Linked DNA regions of Homo sapiens: regions 1, 2 and 4 are each linked to region 3. The links come from fine-mapping of genetic effects on gene expression. A gene starts in region 3. Each other region holds a variant in brackets. All regions are shown on one strand. Distances are from middle to middle.

The links.
Region 1: its variant is fine-mapped to the expression of ST6GALNAC2 in blood mononuclear cells (TOPMed, PIP above 0.99).
Region 2: its variant is fine-mapped to the expression of ST6GALNAC2 in whole blood (TOPMed, PIP above 0.99).
Region 4: its variant is fine-mapped to the expression of ST6GALNAC2 in whole blood (INTERVAL, PIP above 0.99).

Annotation. Positions count from the first base shown.
Region 1 is chr17:76,542,074-76,547,216 of GRCh38, reverse strand. It overlaps PRCD (photoreceptor disc component), which reads right to left. Exons shown (of 5, transcript NM_001077620.3): 3 at 4,584-4,664; 4 at 4,096-4,188; 5 at 1,841-3,414. The coding sequence ends at 4,643. It also overlaps a transcript of CYGB not described here. Among named protein-coding and RNA genes, the nearest start is that of PRCD, 4.6 kb to the right of the region's middle. The variant T/C (reference allele first, on the strand shown) is at 2,170.
Region 2 is chr17:76,562,538-76,567,680 of GRCh38, reverse strand. It overlaps ST6GALNAC2 (ST6 N-acetylgalactosaminide alpha-2,6-sialyltransferase 2), which reads left to right. Exons shown (of 9, transcript NM_006456.3): 8 at 129-228; 9 at 1,410-2,304. The coding sequence ends at 1,577. It overlaps SNHG16 (small nucleolar RNA host gene 16), which reads right to left. Exons shown (of 3, transcript NR_038111.1): 3 at 2,333-4,562. Among named protein-coding and RNA genes, the nearest start is that of SNORD1A, 3.5 kb to the right of the region's middle. RefSeq lists enhancers at 1-422, 423-923. The variant CCACTGAGGGA/A (reference allele first, on the strand shown) is at 2,219.
Region 3 is chr17:76,582,842-76,587,984 of GRCh38, reverse strand. ST6GALNAC2 (ST6 N-acetylgalactosaminide alpha-2,6-sialyltransferase 2) reads left to right here and starts at 2,125. Exons shown (of 9, transcript NM_006456.3): 1 at 2,125-2,301. The coding sequence starts at 2,177. RefSeq lists enhancers at 458-1,138, 1,139-1,820 and silencers at 1,689-1,978, 2,029-2,368.
Region 4 is chr17:76,495,716-76,500,858 of GRCh38, reverse strand. The region is part of intron 1 of RHBDF2 (rhomboid 5 homolog 2); the gene reads left to right. Among named protein-coding and RNA genes, the nearest start is that of RHBDF2, 3.1 kb to the left of the region's middle. RefSeq lists an enhancer at 1-178. The variant AAGG/G (reference allele first, on the strand shown) is at 2,301.

The sequences.
Region 1 (5,143 bases), 41 kb after region 3:
TGAGGAAGACTGAGGGGTCCTAAAGGGGCAGCTCTCCTCTCCCCCTCACCTGGCAGGCAAGAACCAGCCTCTCAGGGCCTAGAGTCTGGTCTGCCCTTGAATGTGAGTTCCTGAAGACAGATTGGTGGCAATGACCCTGGCCAACACCAGCCCACTTGCAAAGGCAGGCTGGGCGGGACCACAGCTCCATTCCTTGTGCCTTGTAGACAGGTCACAATCAAAATTTCCTCACGGCCCCCAACTCGAGACTTGGGCCCCCTCTATCCCAAGCTTTGGTGTCAGATTTCCCAGGCTCAGGTCCTGGCTTCACTGCCAGCTATGAGTGACCTTGAGCAAGTTCTGTGAACCTCACTTTCCTTATTGGATAAATGATAACAGTTCCTGCCGCATAAATGAAACAGTGCGTAAAATACAGCAGCTGGCACAGTGCCTAGCACATAGTAAGCGCCCAATGCATGTTAGTGGTTATTAATCATACGATTAGTATCATCATTATGTTAACATAAGCTTCCGTGCGAACCAAACTGTTCTTCTGAGGTTCACAAAGAAGCATTATCTTCCTCTAGCTCTAGGTCTTGGGCTTCTTCCTAACAGTGAGGCCCCCCACAGAGAGGCTACGGGAGCCTGAGGAACCAGCAGGGTTTGCTCTCTCGCCATTGTGCCTGTCTCATAGTGGGCACTGTGCCCTACCCATCTAGTCTTGGCCCACCACCTGTACTGTTTGCCCTTGCCCAGGACTGCGCGCACACACACACACACACACACAAACCACACACACACACAACCGCACACTTGGAATGGGTGGGTACTCCCCAAGGTGACATCTACACCCCAGGGTGACAGTGGACAGCCACAGCTGCAGTGGCTACTTCCCTGGCTCCCACCACACCCCCACCGCCTCATTAGTTCCCTGGTCATGCTCCAGTCTCCAGGAGAGACTGGCAGCCGCTCTGAGCCTCAGTTGCAGGAGCAGCACCTCCCTGCTCCTGGTTGCTGCCCTCAGCCGCCCTGCAGCTCCAAGCAGCCTTTCCCCGTCACTCAGGCTCCCCCAGCAGAGATATTAGCATTCACACGGAGGAAGGTACCACAGCAGGGCAGCGCCTCCCGTCTTGTCAAGGAGCTGAGGTTCATTCCGGAAGCAGAGCCAGCTGGGAGTGGCGCTGTCCAGGTCGAGGTCACCACTGGAGGTTGGGACATGGTTCTGGGCACAGAGAGGCAGTGGTGGTCTTCTCCAGTACAGGCTTACAGGGGGCTTCCCCACCCCAGCAATGCCACCCTCTGCCATCCTCTGATCTGTTGCAGAACTACCGGTCGCCCAGCTCTGTGTATGTGGAGAGACGGCAGGAAGGACCAGAGAGTGAGGATGTGAGGAACTCTAGCCGTCCTGAATCTACCACTGTTCAGTAATTTACAGTTCAAACCGGATTGTGCCAGCTCACATATATGGGACACTTACCCAACATGCTAAGCATCTTCCACACGTTATCTAATCAACCCTTACAACTCTAAGAGACAGATACCAGTAGGATCTCCATCCTACAGCTAAAGAAACTGAGGCACAGAGGTGTTCAGAAACTTACCCAGGCCACAGAGGTAGGATGTGCTGGTGGAACAAGGTTCAAACCCAGGAGCTCTGACTCTGGACACCTTGCTCTTGGACTCTTGTTATTTCACAGTAGCCAGCACCCTAGACCAGAAGGGACCCCACCCTTTGGCTCAGCTCTCCCTCTCTAGCTGCCCTTTATCTGCCCTCTCCCAAGCCCCTGAGCACTCCTGCTCCCATTCCCAAGCAGCGGCTCTTTGCAAGGAAAGGGATGAAAAAGGACTCAGCCTCAGTGGGGACAGTGTCATAGTCAGGATTTAATTCCCCCATTTAAAGGTCCACCCTTGCCCTGAGCTTCACACTAAGCCCTGTGATGGGAGCCAGTGGGCCAAGGAAGGGGCACCCGGGTCCCAGGAGCCTTCTGTGGGGAGCTCTAGGCTGAGAGAGGTAACTTTCTGCAGCAGGAGCTGCAAATGTGCAGACTGCGCAGAGAGCCCAGGGGTGGGAGAGGCCCCGGGAATAAGAGGCGAGCGTGGGCTGGGTGTGCGGGGAAGGTGTAAACACAATCTGCTCCCACCAAAGCCAGCCTGCTCCCTGGGGGAGACAGCCCCCCCACCCGGCCCACA[T/C]GGCACCCCAGCTGCCCAGGCAACCTCCAAGCCCAGGCAGCCACAGCCCCGCTGGCCGCCAGCAGCCCCTTCCTCTCTTTTTCCCGCCCTTCCTCTGGATGGATCCCTGGAGCAGCCACCACCTCCTGCGCAGGTTCTCGGAACAGTGGCGTGGAGGGGCGCTGCCCTGGGGAAGTGCGTCTGGGCCGTGAGCCAGCTCCATGACCTTGGCCTGACAATTCCTCAGACCAGTGGAAGGAGATGAGCAACTCGGAAATGGCAGCAAGGATGAGGTGACAGGAACATGGCAAATAGAGAATAAATGCAGATAGGATCGGGGAACACAGACTGGGTCCCGGGAACAGTGCCCTCTGGCCCTCAGCCTGACAGGCCTGTCACCAGGAAGGCCGATGCCTCCAAAGAGAGAGACAGGCTGACAGGAGCTGAGACAGGCGATCACGGGCTCACGGCCTGGGTCAGGCTGGCGCTCTGGCTTTGCCTCTGCAGGCTCCTTCCCTAGTGTGACTTTCCCCCTGCCTCCTGCCTGCCCTACTTTGAGAGGCTCCCACAGAACTGCCTTCGCACACACCCCAGCCAGGCTCCCCGAGGTACCAGCAGGCCCTCCCCAGCGGGGTGCACCTCCTCCCCCACCCTGAGCGCCTCCCCAGCGGTTCCCTCTGCTCTGCGGCATCCCTCACCCTTTCCCTTCCTTCCCTTCAGAGGCAGAGTGGCGGCTGAAGTGCTGCTGTCTAGAGAACTCCATCTTCTACTGCCTGGAAGTCAAGGGCACGGGCCAGCCAGGCAGAGACATCGCCGCTGGGCTGGGAGGGGGGCTGGCTGGGGAGGAGAGACGCGTGTGCACAGAGGCACGGGGGGTTTTTGAAGACTAATAGCTGTGAGACATCAGGAGCAGCTGCCTGCAGGGTCTGCTCCTGGATCTGGGAGCAGAAGCGGAAATCTGCTTTTATCTCTGCTCAGGATCATGCAGGATTGAAAAGAGAGAAATGGCAGAGCAGCTGGGGGCAAAGGAGGCAGCCGCCGGGACTGAGCATCAGCAAATTGATAAAAACAAGTGTCAGGCTTTTTCCTTCCCACACGCTACTGCCCGTTTGGAACACACGCGCTTGCACACATACAGAAAACACATTCGGAGGACAAGCTGTCCGTTGCTCCCATCCAGCTGCAGGCAGACATGTCACAGATCCAACTGGCATTTCTTATTGATAATTTCAGCAGAGCAGCCAGTGACAGGATGAGCTCTGGGAACTGGGGAAAGGCAAATGACACAAAAGCGAGTGCCACTGTGGCAAACCGACACCAGCACCTCGGACCACAAGTGGCGGCTTAACAGAATAGCTCCTGGGCTGACAGGCAGTTGGCCAGGCCAGCAAACCACCCCCAACCCCTGCAAACTGTTAGGTTCCAGGGGGAGGCCGCCTGCCATGGTGGGTAGGAGCGTGGGCTCTGCAGCTCCAGTGTGAGCCTGGGAGCCTCCACTTCCTAGCTAGGTGATGTTGGGCAAATTATTTAACCTGTCTCTGTGTTTCCCCATTTAGAAATTGTGGATAATAACATTACCAGGCTCTGTGGGTGACTGAAGATTAAATTACAGAATGAATGGAAGCCCTTGCTTAGTAAATGTGAGCTATCAGCCGTCCCTTGCTTCTGGGGTCTCCTCACTCCTTACTTATTCCTGCCTCTTGCCTGGGCTGCTGGCTGCCCCAGAATTAGCCTGGTGGACCCAGCAAGTCCCTCATCCTAGGCTTTCTCAGGCTCAGCAGTCCCTCAGAGGAGCCTCAGGAACTCAGAGGGAAGGAAGCCCGTCCGAGAGCAGCGAGCACGTCTGCTCTTTCTGCCAGGCCCAGCCAGGTCCTGCTCAGGAGCCCACACCCAGGGCCTGGGGGAAGGGGAGACTGGCAGGTCCCGGGCTGAGAGGGAGGCGTCTACCTTCTCTAGTGCTGCTTCCCCCCATTCTCCCTCTTGCCGCTGCTGCAGCTCCCACAGCATCCTCCTGGGCTAGGGGACGAACCAGGACCTGAGCTGAAACAGAAAACCAGAGCAGATCAGCACTTCTCCCACACCTGGGGATGGGACTCGCATTTCAGAGTGGATGTTTCCGAGCACCGCCTCTCCCTTGGGCGTCCTCCGACACTGCCCTCATGCCCCAGCACGACCACCTCGCCATCCCCAAGCCTAGAAAATGTGGTCAAACTACACCTGGTTCTCTTCAAACTCATCCTTGCCCCATGGCCCGGACCACAACAGGCTCAAGGTAGCAGCCAAAGGCATGAGTCCATCCGCCTACTTTGAACCTCCATCAGTGGCAAGAGCTGAACACTGCCTGCTATCCTCCCACATGGCCGGGACTTGCCTGTTGCTTCCTGCCTGTCCCAAGCCTTGCCCTCTGCCCTCCCCGGCTCCCAGCCCTGCCCTACCTGCCTGAGCCAGCTGATCCCAGTCTCTGGGCCTGAGCCCCACCTGCAGAGGTGAGGGCTTACTTCAGAGGTTCTTTCTCCCTAAACAGAGGAAAGCACTGGGGTCAGGATTGAAGGGCACGACCTTCCCATGTTTCTGACTCTCCTCTTCCTCCTCCTCCCATCCCTATCAATTCACCCCAATATTGAGGGGCAGGACCACCTAAGGAATCAGTTGGCATTTAGGACAGTGTGACTGGAGAGTAGAAATGTCACCCCCACTGCCAGCCTTCCACGGCAGCCACCATCGGCAGGTGGTTCCTCGATGTCAGACCAATTTTTCCAGTTAACTGGGTCCCAAGGAGTTAATAGGCAACTGCTTCCTTCTGGCTAAGTCACGCCAGGCCAGGCCTGGCCAGATGGTCCTCAGATTTGGCCTTTTCTCTCCTGCCAGGAGGTCCAGGCCCATTTCATGTAGAAGAGACCCTGCCTGGAATCGGGCCTGAGCATCCCGCATTAGCCACAAATGAGATAGATGATCTGGAGCAAGCCACCTAAATCTCCCTGTCCCTCAGTTTCCA
Region 2 (5,143 bases), 20 kb after region 3:
GAATAAAGAACTGACTGGAGTAGAAGGCCCTCAGTTTTTGAAGTTTTCCCACCTATTTGAATGTGTAGTTGTGAAGTGTGATGATAGCCATCAAGCTAGTGAGCTGAAATGTCTCTTTTTGCTTCCAGGTTCTTGAAATCAAAGTTGATTAACACACATTTTGGAGACCTATATATGCCTAGTACCGGGGCTCTCATGCTGCTGACAGCTTTGCATACCTGTGACCAGGTAAGAGGCCTTCTCTTCCAGAAGCCCATGCCGGCAGAACACAGGATAACAGAACCCAACAGGATCCCCTGATATCCCTTACCTCGGAGCTGGGACTCTTGGCCTCTGTTCGTGGAATCCCCAGTTCCAAGAGTGCTGCTGGTACTGCTCACTTCCTTGCCCACAACCCTGGGGCCTTTGAAGGACAGGTCCTGGGCCAGCCTTGCCTTGGCTCCGGACACCTGCCTCAGGCTTGCCTTGGCTCCTGACACCTGCCCCAGGCTTCCTTCTTTCACTCTTCTCCAAGGCAGCCACTCAGTATGGTATTTAAGGCTCAAATCATCAAACTGCCCTTGTGAAAGCCAAAGTCCTCAACATACTGGGCCAAATAGGGACATTCTTTTATGGGGACATCCTAGAGCTGGGGTAGGGCAGCAGGTTTAGCCTCCCACATGCAACTACTTTGAAATCACCGTTAAGAGTCATTCCTGATGGGATATGACCCACGTGAAGCTCATGGAGGCAGGGGCCAAGCAGCAGCTTTCAAGGAGAGGCCGTGACCCATGCTAAAGCTGGTATGGAGAGCTGGGGGCCAAATGCCTCTCCACGACTCACACCTAAATCTTTTCCCTCTTTTTTGAGACAGGGTCTCAACTCTGTCACCCAGGCTTAAGTGCAGTGGTGTGATGATCCTCCTGCCTCAGCTTCCCAAGTAGCTGGGTAGCTGGGATCACAGGCATGTACTGCCACGCCCAGCTCTTTTTTTTTTTTTTTACTTTTTGTAGAGACAGGGTCTTACCATGTTGCCCAGGCTGGTCTCAAACTTCCAAGCTCAAGTGATCCTCCCACCTCAGCTTCCCAGTGTTGGGATTACAGGCGTGAGCCACCACACAGGGCCTTTTCCTATTCTGATGCAGGAGTGTCTTGACTGCAGTCCCCAGTTAGGATGGAGAGAGTAGTAATGGGCTTTTGCCTCCACCCTTGAGTTCCAAATCCAGCTCTGGCAATCACCAGCTATGCCAAGTGGGGACACAGTGAGTCACCCCTGAATCCATCTCCCCACTTGCTAAGTGGGAATAAGCCCTAGACCATTATCCTCACCTCAGCAGACGGACACCTTTCTAAACTCATGTCACTTCACCCAAGTGTCTGTACACACTAGACGCTCAACAAATACTAATCCAGCGACTATCCTTGCCCAGGTCAGTGCCTATGGATTCATCACAAGCAACTACTGGAAATTTTCCGACCACTATTTCGAACGAAAAATGAAGCCATTGATATTTTATGCAAACCACGATCTGTCCCTGGAAGCTGCCCTGTGGAGGGACCTGCACAAGGCCGGCATCCTTCAGCTGTACCAGCGCTGACCCCAATGCACTGAGCCCTTTGCTTCTTCAAGAGTTGCGGCCCTGATCCTCTCAAGTGGCCAAAAGCTTTTTTAACTTTTCAATCTTCACCTTCCCTTGCCAACAGAGGGCACTGGGGTGAATTCAAGATTTTCATCGAGGTCTGTTCAATATAGGACACCCCAGCTTGTCCTTGGCTCATCCAAGAACTCTTCTGTATCTAAAACAATACATCTCAATCTTGGCCAAGGGAAAATGGACTGCTTTGCTGGATTGGCACTGAGCAACTTTAGGAAATGTCGGTGGAGTGTTCAGCAAGATCAGACAGCAGTCCAGGTCAAAGGCAAACACACACGCTCCAGCCCAAATCCTCCTGGTGGCACATCCTACCCCAGATGCTAAAGTGATTCAAGGACTCCAGGACACCTCTTAAGAGCCTTTCTAAGAACATGATAGGCTTACTTCTGCTCCATAATAAAGTGGGAGAAAAAAGCCAGAATATAACTTAAGACTAGATAACTGCGTACATGATGGACCATTTTTTTTTTTTTGGCTGGGTAGAGAAATCATATAAAACGCAGGCTGTTTAGCATGGAGATGACTCTCAGAACACTGGGAGGGTCTGGCACTTGATGGGGGTTAGTTGCTTGGCAGCCTGCCTG[CCACTGAGGGA/A]AGTCCCATTAGAGATGTATCACCACCTTGTCACCAACAGGATGATGTCACCAGGTAATAAACCTTCATCCTCATATCATGGCGTCAGTAAATTTGAACTCAGCTGACGGTAGTTTCCCAAGTTTATTGTAAGTGGTTTTAAGTTAAGTCTCATCCAAACAAGTTATCACACAGCACTTAACCAAGCCCTGGGATTTACTGTCTTGATGACTACACGGCTTTGCACAGTCTGAGATGCTTCAGTGTGCAAGGCAGCAGCTGGGGGGGAGGAGGGGGGTCTTCACAGGGACAGCTGGCAAGAGACTTCCTGAGGCACATCAGTTACGTTGGTCAATTTAGGGCACGGTCTGGTTCTGCAGCTTTGAAAGGTGGATTCTTTCTATTAGCACACTTTACAAGAGGGATTGTAAAGGATTAACTCAGTCACCAGAAACGAAACACCACTTCAGAAATTCAGAGACCTCTGATCAACAGAACAGACATTTGGGCTTTAACTGCTAAAGCAGCTACCTACTTGGGGAAACCATGGCATTCTGCTGCCTGGACAGCAGGAATTAAGAGAGATTTCAGAGTTACTGGCACGAGGACAAAGCCTCTCAGCTCGCTTCACCTTGGCAACCTTAAACAGTCCCTCCTTGGTCTCTATGATAGCAGTATGTTCCTTTGGATGGAATACTTGGTTTGGAAATAATGTAGTCAAATGTAGGATATGTAAGTACTCCTCAACAGTCACAATCCATCCTAGTATCTTAAATAGTGATTTTTTTTTTTTAATTTACAAAAGAGGTTTATTGGACTTACAGTTCTACATGGCTGGGAAGGCCTCACAATCATGGCGGAAGGTGAAAGCCACATCTCACATGGCAGCAGATAAGAGAAAAAAAGGTAGTGATCTTTTAGTAAAGAAACCTGAGACTGGTAGTGGGCTTGGAGCCAGAGGATCGCTTAAGTCCGGGAGTTCGAGACCAGCCAGGGTAACAAATTGAGACCCCCCCCCAACTTTAAAATTAAAAAACGAAAGAAAAAATAGCTGGGTGTGGTGGCTCACACCTGTAATCCTAGCACTTTGGGAGGCCAAGGCGGGTGGATTGCCTGAGCTCAGGAGTTTGAGACCAACCTGGGCAACATGGTTGAAACCCTGTCTCTACTAAAACAAAAAAAATCAGCCAGGTGTGGTAGCGTGCACCTGTAGTCCCAGTTACTTGGGAGGCTGAGGCACAAGAATTGCTTGAACCTGGGAGGTAGAGGTTGCAGAGATCATGCCACTGCACTCCCAGCCTGGGTGACAGAGCAAGACTGTCTCAAAAACAACAACAACAACAACAACAAAACAAAACAAAAAAAACCTCTCAAAAAAATGAAAAAAAATTTAAATTTAAATTAAAAAAAAAAATGCTGGGTCTGATGGCTCACACCTGTCATCTCAGCACTTTGGGAAGCTGAGGCAGGCAGATCACAAGGTCAGGAGATAGAGACCATCCTGGCCAACATGGTGAAACCCAGTCTCTACTAAAGAAGGTACGCGCCTGTAGTCCCAGCACTCAGGAGGCTGAGCCAGGAGAATTGCTTGAACCCGGGAGGTGGAGGTTGCAGTGAGCCAAGATTGTACCACTTCACTCCAGCCTGGCGACAGAGTGGAACTCCGTCTCAAAAAATAAAATAAAATAAAATAAAATAAAATAAAATAAAATAAAATAAAGCAAAAATATAAAATGTTAAAAAAAAAACAAAAAAAGGGAAAAAGGAAGCTGATTGCCTTGGTGAGTCAACACTGGGTATTTTCTGACCACTATTTGAAACAAAAAAGGAAACCACTGATATTCTATGCAAAGATCTGTTCCTGGAAGGCACTCTGCGGAGACACCAGGAGAACTTTTATCAATCCTTCATTGATTTGAAGTAAAAGTGCTAAAGCAATGGTTGTGGGTGGCAACCCATTAGCAGATCACAAAATCACTGTAGTGGGTAACTAAACAAGAGGAAACACAAGACGGCATCCTGTGTAACTGGGGTTAAGCATTACTCTCTGAAACTCATGGCATCAGTTTCCTCTTAGGCTCTTCCAACAGAGTATAATCATGTTCATTTCAGTTTACAATCCTTGCAGTCCCATCGATTTGTGAGATTATACCCAGGTCATCCACAGTGGAGGTCTGAAAATGTTCTTAGTTGTACTCTAATTTCACTAACTGCCAAAAGGTTTTCCAGAATAATCTCAGTTGCTTCATTCCTTTAAAGATGAAGCCCAAAGAACGCATGGCGATTACTTTAGAGGAACAATTAGCAGCAGAGGCAGGGCTGTGCTGATCCCATCTGGCATCGCTGGGAGCTAACCTATAAAACAGAAGAATAATTTGAAGTAACAGCCAAGGAAGTGACTCAAAACTGAATGCTATATAACAACTAATTTGGGAGAACAGGCAGTCAGTCCAAGAGCACTCACTCTCACCACCGGCAGGCATGTGCGCGTTGGGGGAGCGTAACGGGGCACTATCACACCATTTTGGTGCAGGCTGGTGGAGATCCAGGATGACTCATTTTAAGGAGACAGTATCTCTGAGGGAGCAGTTTCTGGTAAGAGGCCAGTAAACAACTATCAGAAAGCACTCCCTCTGGATAGAAACATTTCAAGTCAAATCTTATGGTTTACTTGAGTTCTGTAGTCAAGTCCACTCAGCAGACAATAACCACTTGATAAGCTACCCTTTTCACTGTTTTACTTGCAGGCTGTAAACTACTGGGGCCAGTTTTTAGGCTCATTAAATCTCACCCAGAATACAGCTTCTTTGGTGTCCAGCAAAAACACAACCTTAAATACAAAGAGTTTGCACACACCTCCCCTTTCTTTTTTTTTTTTTTTTTTTTGAGACGGAGTCTCGCTCTGTCACCCAGGCAGGACTGCGGACTGCAGTGGC
Region 3 (5,143 bases):
TGGCGCAGTGGCTCGCACATGTAATCCCAGCAGTTTGGGAGGCCAAGGTGGGCAGATCACCTGAGGTCAGGAGTTTGAGACCAGCCTGGCCAACGTGGTAAAGCCCCCATCCCTACTAAAAATACAAAAAAAAAAAGCTGGGCATGGGGGTGCACTCCTGTAATCCCAGCTACTGGGGAGGCTGAGGCAGGAGAATCGCTTGAACCTGGGAGGTGGAAGTTGCAGTGAGCCGAGATCACGCCTCTGCACTCCAGCCTGGGTAACAGGCTGTTTCAAAAAAAAAAAAAAAAAAAAAGACTAGAGTCCCGGCAGGGAGAGGCTGGGCTGTGTGTGGGGGCCAAGTTTGTAGGTTTGTAAGTGGAAGTTGAATAAATTACTAATGAATGATTCTCCTTTTCTCCATGAAGTAGAGGGTAAGGCACTTACTGAGAGCAAGGGCTAGGAGGGATATTTATGGGCACAGAGAGAAGGTCTGAGGAAATGTGAGAAGCCAGTGATCAGGGGATAAGTAACATCTACAGGAATTTTGACAAGTAAACCCATAAAGATTGAAATGAAAGTCGTGACACCATAAATTCCAAGTAGTGCCCATCTGCGGGGTAGCAAGATGAGTCTGGCTCTGCTGAGCAGTCTTGGGGTGAAGGAAAGAACTGGCCCAATGTGAGTGACCTCCAGTGACCCTGACTTGGTAGGAGTACTGAGACTGGATGGACTGAATGGCCATTCCTGACCACAGGCCCAGGCCCTGGGAGGTTTTCGGGAAGCCTTGCAATCAGACAGGTACCTGTTGCTGCACCCAGACTTCCTCGGATACATGAAGAACAGATTAGAGCCAAAGGCCCGTGACACGGTAGCCTAGGTCCCTCTCATCCTTGCAGCCTGCTGACAGTTGGGAGTCTGGGGCATGTCACAGCCTGCCGCATGTCACAGCTTGCCGAACAGTGGCCACTGAAGCACACCCATCTCATCCATCACTCACTGCCAGGGAGTGTTCCACTTAGAGAGCACGGGTGCTGAGCTTCCCAGCCCTTTCTGATGCTGGAGCCTGCTAGACCAGGGGTCCCCAATCCCAAGCCTGGTCCGAGACCTGTTAGGAACAGGGCATCGCAGCAGGAGGTGAGTGGAGGGGGAAGGAGCATTACCGCCTGAGCTCCGCCTCCTTCAGATCAGCCTCGGCATTAGAGTCTCAAAGGAGTGCGAACCCTTTTGTGAAATGCGCATGCCAGGGATCTAGGTTGCGGGCTCCTTATGAGAGCATCTTAACTCATGCCTGATGATCTGAGGTGGAACAGTTTCATCCCCAACCCCCCCACCCCCACCCCCCTCCGTGGAAAAATTGTCTTCCAGGAAACCAGTCCCTGGTGCCAATAAGTTTGGGAACCCGTTGTGCTGAACATTTCAGGTGGTCTCTCTGACTGGCCTCGTTCTGTGAAAGGAACTCAATGCGATTGAGGGGACTGGCCACCCTGGATGGTTACCAAATAAGCGCTGACAGCCTTAGCTCCCCCACGAAACCCATCACGGCAAGCTCCCCACCTCACCCCCTTTTCCCCCCTCTACCGCCAGCCCAGAGACTGAGCTGTCGGGTTTTGCTCCTCCACCCTGCCCGCCCCCTCCCAGCTGTCCTGGCGTCCGCAGACTGACAGATCTGAGGGTCCTTTGGAGGGAGCCGGGCACATCTCCTCCCGGCCGCCGCCCACCCGCCACAGAGTCTAGAGGCCGAGTGCCGGGCCCGCAGAGGGCAGAGCGCAGCCAGCGCAGCAGGTGGCGGCGTCTACCCGCGCCTAGCTAGCCCCGGACGGCGCGAGGAAAGCGCCCTGCCCAACCCGAGACTGGCGGCCTCCCGGGGCTGGGCTCTGGAGAGAGCGCAGTGGCAGGAGTGGCCGCTGCCGAAGTCCCCCGGGCAGGGGGCAGGGCCAAAGGAGCGCGCGCTCTGGGCGCCGGGACGACACTCCAGCCCCGGGGGACCCGCCGCCCAGCTCCCGAGGGTGCGGCAGCCTCTGGCCACTCAGCCGGGGCCGAGAGGGAGCTGCCGGGCGGGCAGGCGCCGCAGGCACCCGGCGGGCAGGGCGGGGCAGGGCAAGACGGCCGCCTCCGCAAGTGCCACCCGGCCCACCCGGTTCTCTCCCTTCTGCCTGGGACGTCAGCGGACGGGGCGCTCGCGGGCCGGGGCTGTATGGGGCTCCCGCGCGGGTCGTTCTTCTGGCTGCTGCTCCTGCTCACGGCTGCCTGCTCGGGGCTCCTCTTTGCCCTGTACTTCTCGGCGGTGCAGCGGTACCCGGGGCCAGCGGCCGGAGCCAGGTAGGGGCTGCCGAGCGCAGAGCGGGAGGGCGCAGGGGCGACCAGGGCGCGGGGAGGGTCCCCAGCCCAGGGCTCCCCGGCGGCCCGCAGCCCTCAGCCCAACCTCCGCGTGGACCCCTCTGGGGCAGCTCTCAGCGAGGACTCGGCCGCGGCCCTTTGTCGCCAGAACCCTCTCCCAGCCTTGACCTCGCGCTGCCCGGACCCCGCGGCCTTTGCCTGGGTCCAAGGAAGACCTCGCCCCTGTGCACTGGCGACCCGCCCCGGTGCCCCTTGTTGGTGAAGTCCTCCCCGGCCTGATAAGTACACTTTCTATTGTCGAAATCTGGCTGGGTCCCCGAAGCAGATAAAAACTTCCTTTTTTGTCGGGAACTCTCCCTCGGTAACGTCAGATTCTGCTTTTTGGGCAGGGGCCCAAGTCTCCGGTTTCCAACTTCGCGGGGACCCTCCGTCGGGCCGCGGCCAGTCGCCTTTCCCGCCCGCTGCGGTCTCTGTCCGCCCCGCGCCCGCTCCCTTCTCCCCGGCTTCCGCTCGCCGTGTCTGGATAAGCCCAGTGCGGGCGCGATCCGCGAAGAGGCGGGCGCCCGAGGGAAAGAGGGGTGACTCCTGGCTCCATCCGCGTTCTCCTCCCCGCGCCGCGTCCTGCGCTCCACTCCCTCCTCCTCCCTAGGCACTTTCCTGGGTGTCCCACGAGGAGAACCTGGGAGCCGGCCTCTAGCAGGTGGTGGTTCCGGTGACTGAAGAAGCCGCAAAACGATTTCGCTTAGCTTAAGAAAGGCGGACCAAGCCGTGCGAAGTCTGGGTTTGGGAGGAGGGAAGGGCCCGGCAGCCTCAGGGAGAGGCCTCCAGCCCCAGCCTTTCCCTTCCTGGAGCTTTTCCATCTGCGCACCCCCTACCAACCTTGCTGGGGGGCTAACGGGATGAAAACAAAATAAGTATCTGGTCTCCACAGATGCTGTCAAAGGATACACCAAAAGTTGCAGAACAATGTGAAACAGCTTGCCAGTGATCAGGAGTCCAGCACTCTTAGAACAAAGGGTGCTTGCCCCGCCACGGTGACTTAACGCCTGTAGTCCCAGCACTCTGGGAGGCGGAGGTGGGAGGATAGCTTGAGGCCAGGAATTCGAGGCTGTGAGCTGTGATTGCACTACTGCATTCCAGCCTGGTTGACAGAGAGAGACCCTGTCTCAAAAGAAAAGGAATCCTTGTCACTTTTATGTAAAGATGTTTAAAACACAAAGTATCTCAATGCAAAGAAATAATACATGTTTGATATAAGCCTGGGCAACATGGCGAAACCTCGTCTCTACCAAAAATACAAAACTTATCCGGGGATGGTGGTGCATGCCTGTGCTTCCATCTATCTATTCCGGGAGCTGACCAAGAAGATCCCTTGAGTCTGGGAGGTCGAGGCTGCAGTGAGCTGTGATCGCGCCACTGCACTCCAGCCTGGGCAATACAGCAAGGTCCTGTCTCCAGAAAAAAAAAAAAAAGTTCGAGGTGATGGATATGCTAATTAGCTGGTTTGATTATTACACATTACATACACGTATTGAAATATCACACTGTGGCCGGGCGCGGTGGCTCACGCCTGTAGTCTCAGCATTTTGGGAGGCCGAGGCAGGCGGATCACGAGGTCAGGAGATCCTCCTGACCTGGCTTTCACCTGGCTAACACGGTGAAACCCCGTCTCTACTAAAAAATACAAAAAATTAGCTGGGCGTGGTGGCGGGCACCTGTAGTCCCAGCTACTCGGGAGGCTGAGGCAGGAGAATGGCGTGAACCTGGGAGGTGGAGCTTGCAGTGAGCCAAGATCGCGCCACTGCACTCCAGCCTGGTGACAGAGCGAGACTCCATCTCAAAAAAAAAAAAAAGAAATATCACACTGTACCCTATACATATGTGCAAGTATGTGCCAATTAAAAATAATTTTACAAAAAGGAAGAGACCTGATCTAGCAACTCAGCCCCACTCTGCATGTGACGTCCTGCCCCACCAACACCAAGGCCCTCTGGCTGCCCTGGACCACTGCCTATGGGGTAGCCCTGCTCCACAAGGAGCAGAAAAGAAAAAAAAAAAAAAAAGGCCTTCACCAAATGTGGTTCCTCGACCTTGGACTTCCCAGCCTCCATAACTGTAAGAAATGAATTCCTTTTCTTATAAAAATAATCTTTTGGGGACAGTCTCACTCTGTCACCCAGGCTTGCAGTACAGTGGGTCTATCTTGGCTCACTGTAACCTCCACCTCCTGAGCTAAAATGATTCTCCCACCTCAGCCTCCCAAGTAATACATTATCTTCTTTTTTTTTTTGGGACAGAGTCTCCCTCTGTCGCCCAGGCTGGAGTGCAGTGGCCCCATCTCGGCTCACTGCAAGCTCTGTCTCCCGGGTTCATGCCATTCTCCTACCTCAGCCTCCCGAGTAGCTGGGTCTACAGGTGCCCGCCACCATGCCCAGCTGATTTTTTGTATGTTTTAGTACAGACAGGTTTTCACCGTGTTAGCCAGGATGGTCTCGATCTCCTGACCTCGTGATCCGTCCACCTGGGCCTCCCAAAGTGCTGGGATTATAGGCGTGAGCCACCGCGCCCAGCCCCGAGTAATACATTTTTTAAAAAACACAAATTAAAATTGTTTCAGGGTATCTAATAGACTTTAAGTATGAAGTTTACTATACTTCTATTATAATGCAACAATGCTTTTTTAAAAAAAAGATCTTTCCTCTTTTCAAAATGTAGTATGACTCAAGCACCTGGCCCTTTCCTGCTGTTTCTCTGTATTTGCACTGTAGCTTAAACCCCAATGCGGGGCAGGTCAGGACTCAGCCTTGCTGTGGGAGGTGGATAT
Region 4 (5,143 bases), 87 kb after region 3:
AGGGACTCACACAGCAGGGCTGGACCGGAGCTCAGAAATTGGACCCAGGAGTCCTGACTTCTGGATGGAGGGGCTGGGGAAGGTTGGCCCTGGGCTTGCCTTTTACCTGTTTGGCCCCTCGGATGTTCCCCCAGGGCATTGGGATAGAGACGGATAAGTTCCCTAGGGTACAGACCCCGCCCCACTCCCACGCCAGGGCGCAAAGGAAGCCTAGGTTTTGGCCCTGCCCCATTCCATGAAAGATTAACGGAGGGGGCTCTAGGGTTGGAGCTACTGAGAGGGTGGCAGCGGGTGTGTCTGAGGAGCAGAAGGCGGTGGGGAGCTGACCCCACTTGGGGAGAGGCTGCTGTTGCCTGGGCGGCTGGCATCAGGCCCCCAGTGTGTGCCATTTGCTGGTAATATAATGAGACCAGCATCTGCCTTATTCGACCCTCACTGTCCGTAGGGCAGGCAGTGGAAAGGGAGGCGTGTTTTAGAGCTGTGGTTCTCAACCAGGGGCGACTTTGCCTGCCATGGGATATTTGGCAATGTTGGAGTCATTTTGGGTGTCACACACTTGGGAGGGGAAGTGAGTGTTGTTGTTACTGGCAGGTAGTGGGTAGAGGCCAGGGACGCTACCAGACATCTTCAGGGCACGGAACAGCCCACATAACGAGGAATTATCCAGCCCAAGGTGTTGGGCTGTGCTGAGGCTGAGAAACCCTGCGCAGCAGCTGGTCCATCAGGTTCCTTCTCAATGATGCTCCCTCACTGGGGAAACTACCTCAGTTTTCCAGAGTGGTTAGGGGAGGAACTTGGAATAAACCTGAATGAGATGAGGGGTAAGGCAGTGTGAGGGCACTTATTCCCCTCACAAGAGTCTTCCTTTGGTGCCATGAGACACCGCCTTTCCCAATCTCCACTGGCCCTGCAGGAAGCTGGTCTAGGTGCTGTGGGGGAGAGGTTGGGAACAGAGGACCCCCTTGCAGCCCAGGCCTGGGGTGCTTAACCCCAGGGCAATCTCCCAGGAAGGCTGGGCTGAGGCAGCCCTTGAGCTCAAATATCCCTGGGCTGGGAGGGTGGGCAGAGGGCGAGCTCTCTTCCCATAGATTTTCCCAAAGCTGGATTGCTGAAGCTGGCATGGTTGCCTGATACCATGTGACCTGCTGGAATTTTCCCTTCTGAACTCACACCTAACTCCTCCAATTATGTACACCTTTTGAAAGTGACATCCAAGGAGTATCAGGGCTCCTAATTCCTGGGGGGTCCCCAGGCTGCTTTTGTCCTGCAATAAAGAGGGCACCCTGGGTTAGCTGACGAGCCCTGGAGTGGGCCCAGCTGCTGATGGGGTGGAGGCACCCCTGCCCATGGTGTTAGCTGAGCAGAGGTGAGAGATGGGAGACATCAAAGCACAGGCCAGGTGGCCCCCCAGTAGGGATGACTCAGAGTTGTTTGTATTGGGCTGGAGGAATGTACTTCCAGTTTTCTGGCAACAAGGAGGGGTGGCTGGCACGGTGGGAGAGGATCGGATGAAGCAGCCACGTCCATGCCCAGGAGCTGGGGCCACCTCGCTGCCCTCCCTCCCTGTTTTCTTGCAGTAGCCATTATACCCATCCTGTTCACTTCTGGACCCAGCCTTCTTGCCTGGGAACCCTGGTGGAGGTTTCGAGCTTGGGTTCTTTTTGTTGGTGTTGGTGGCTTTTGTTTTTTTTGTTTTGTTTTGTTTTTGTTTTTGTTTTTTTGGTCTCTTGACTGTAAAAGGCTGAAGTGAAACTCCCACCTTTTCATTTGCACAAAAAACAAAAGTGGCCTCCATTGCTGTGAGCCTCTCAAGGGACAGGGCTGAGCACCCAGGCTTGTACAAAGTTGTTCAGGAAGTCGGCAGTGGAGCTCGGGTGTGAACCCAGTTGCCCACCCTCAGGCCCCACCCAAGAGCCCCACGAACAAACCCTCAGTGACTCCTACCTGTCTGTACCTGGTGTAACCACACACACACACAGACACACACAAACAGACACACAGAGACACACACAAACACACAGACACACACAGACTCACACACACACACACACACACACACACACACACACTCTCTTTCTCTCCAGCCCAGGAGGGGGACTTTTGTTCCTATAAGAGGAGGAATAAATCACACTACAAATGCTTTGGGTGACGCACTTGGGGCCCGAGTCCTGCTCTGGGGTCAGTGGTGCTGTTTTTCCTGTGGCCTCAGCTCTGGATACTGTGGTGGCCTCTCCACCAAGGTTTCTGTCCTTGCTGTGTAAACTCTGCCCCAGACAAGGTGACAGATGACAGCAGAAGTC[AAGG/G]AGCTGTGCACGCCTGCCCGTGAGTGTGCGAGTGGCATGGCTCAGCTGGCTGGTGCTTCCCTTTGGGCCTGGCCCCCGCCTGCCGCTGGCACAGCACAGGGAAGACGTGTGCCCTCCTGGCTGCCTCTCCCCCTCCACACTCTCCTCAGATCTCTGTGCCTCGCACTCTGGAGCAGGCCTCGGCGCTGCCCCATCTGCCCCAGGGGATTTCCAGAGTGAGCTCAGGCATCTGCACCGGCTGTGGAAGCGCTGGCTGTCGGAAGCGGCTCCCAGTTTCCTATCCAGCTGAGCCAGGCTGGGGGAGGAGTGGCGGGGACGTCTGCGCCTGCCCAAGTACAGGCTGACCTCGGCGGTGGTGGTGGCTAGGCAGGGACAGCTCTCAGGGCACGGGCGGCTTCACAGGGAAACCAAGCCTGCCCGGAACGTCGTTTTGCCTCCCAGGAGACCTAGGATGGGTGTAAGGAAAAACACATCTTCCGGGAAGTACAAAGCGCCACCGTGTCCACGGCCCCTCCTTCAGCAAATGTATCCGGGCGCCCAGCTGGGAGTTGTTTGTGGTCCAAAAGCTACTGGAAGGCAGTTCCAGCCCCAGTGCCCGGCTCCTGCAGGAAAGTGGTTTCAGCCAAGTGGGCAGTGCAGGAGGTGGGCCAGAGACACTGTTTGGAGTGTGAGGGGAACCTTGTGACCAGCAGAAAAGGATGGAGGAGGATTCCAAACTTCAGGAGCTGGGCCAAGGTCCAGGGGCTGCTGGGCACAGTCGTCCATGTGTGTGCTCAGTAGGATGAGTTCACTTAATTAGTCTGTGCCTCAGTTTCCCCAGCTGCACAGTGGGCTCACTAACAGTAATCTACCTGGAGGGTTGTGTGAGGTGAGGACTCCCGTGGTAAAGGTGTGCAGCCTGCAGTGCAGTGCCCGGCCATGGCAGGAGCAGTGCGGGGAGCCATCGTGATAATGGTGTTAGGGTGGCTTCAGGTAGGGGCGTGGCTGCCGGTCCATGGCACAGACTTGGGAGATGGCCGAGGCCCTGCCTCGTGGGCTGTCAAGGACTAGATGGGAACACGCATATGGAGCAGTGGCACTGTTGTTATTGTTATTCTGTAGGAGTGGCTGTGTCTGGGGTAGGGGGACCTCAGTGCCTTGCTGGCCAAGGGAAGTGAGGGTGGGTTTCCATCTGGGCATGAACTGCTGACCTCTGCCCAGGGGTTTTCCTGGCCTGCCAGTGTGTGTGTGTCACTGACAGTGGGGTGGGGGGCAGCTCATGGAGTTGGTGCCCCTCAGCTGTGCTTTCCCTGGCGTAGGTTCCTGGGGCTGGGAGCAGGGTAAAGCTGCCTCAAGTCTTGGTTTTCTCCTCTGCCTCCCCCGTGTGGCCGCCAACCCTGTGCCAGCAGGTGGTGCAGGGATGGCTTCCTGCCCCGGTCTCTGGCAAGAAACCCTTTTCCCTCTCCCAGTGGGTCTCCCCAGGTTGTCAGCTCCATTTAGTCATAAGAAGATCTGGGGCCAGGCGCGGTGGCTCACGCCTGTAATCCCAGCACTTTGGGAGGCTGAAGCAGGCAGTCACAAGGTCAGGAGATCGGGACCATCCTGGCTAATACGGTGAAACCCCGTCTCTACTAAAAATACAAAAAAATTAGCCAGGTGTGGTGGCATGCACCTGTAGTCCCAGCTACTCAGGAGGCTGAGGCAGGAGAATCGCTTGAACCCAGAAGGCAGAGCTTACAGTGAGCCGAGATCACCCTACTGCACTCCAGCCTGGGCAGCAGAGCGAGACTCCGTCTCAAAAAATAAAAGAAAAAAAAAAGAGATCTGGAAGAGGAGGGTTGAGGATCTGCTGTGGGGTTTGGAGTGGGAACAGGACTTTGAACCCTGGCCTAAGCCCCTTTTGACCTTGCCAGCCCGTGAGGATGATGACAGCCGCCTCTCACCCTTAGCCTCAACTAAATGAGATCATGTCTGTAAAAGTCCTTTGCAAGCTGAGCAGTGCTGCCCAGGCAGTTAGGTGCTGTCCCTTCTTCATGAATCAAAGGCCTTTGCATGCAGGACTCACTCCAGCACCCCAAACACTCAGAGTCCTCACCCGTTCTTTTTCTCCTGCCCCTCACCAGTTCCAGGGTGGCAAGAGGCTGCAGAGTGTGGAGGTTAAGAGCGCGGGACCCTGGCTGGGGTTGTAGCCCCACCACCTCCCTAACTGTGGGACCTTGGACAGGTGACTTCATCTCTCTGAGCCTCAGTTTCCCCACCTGTCGAATAGAGATCTGTCCCCTGTGGGGCTCGTGGCTCAGATAGAGACTAAGTGAGCGATGGTGGCAGAGCTCAGCCAGGAATAAAAGAAACTTCCAACTGGGCGTTGGGTGTGTGCCAGGCACTGTACATTCATATCTGCTGTCATCTTCCCTGGCTCCCTCCGTGGTGGGGCATCAACCCATCTCACAGCAGAGGAGGCAGGCTCTGCAGCACCCACTTGCCCAAAGTCTCCCAGCAGGTAGGTGGCCCAGGCAGGTTTGAGTCCCATCTCTGGCCCCTTATTCCTCCTCATTCCTCAGCAAGAGAGCTCCACGCTGCCCCGAAGCAAGGTGTGGGCCATAAGCACGTGGCTTTGCAGGCCTGCTTGGGACAAGCAACCTGGTGTCCCCGTGTCCTGAAACCCTGGCAGTCACTGGGGCTAGGGCCAGCCTCTTCCCTGGGAAGCAGGGAGCCCCAGGGCAACGTTCTGGGAAATCAGGTTTATTAGTTCCTTAATGACCGTTTACAAGCTCAGAAGTGTCTGCCTGGCATTTTCCCTCCCTGCTGAGGGGCTCCATGCAGCCGGAGGCAGAACTGGGCCTCCAGAAGCGCTCTGAGTG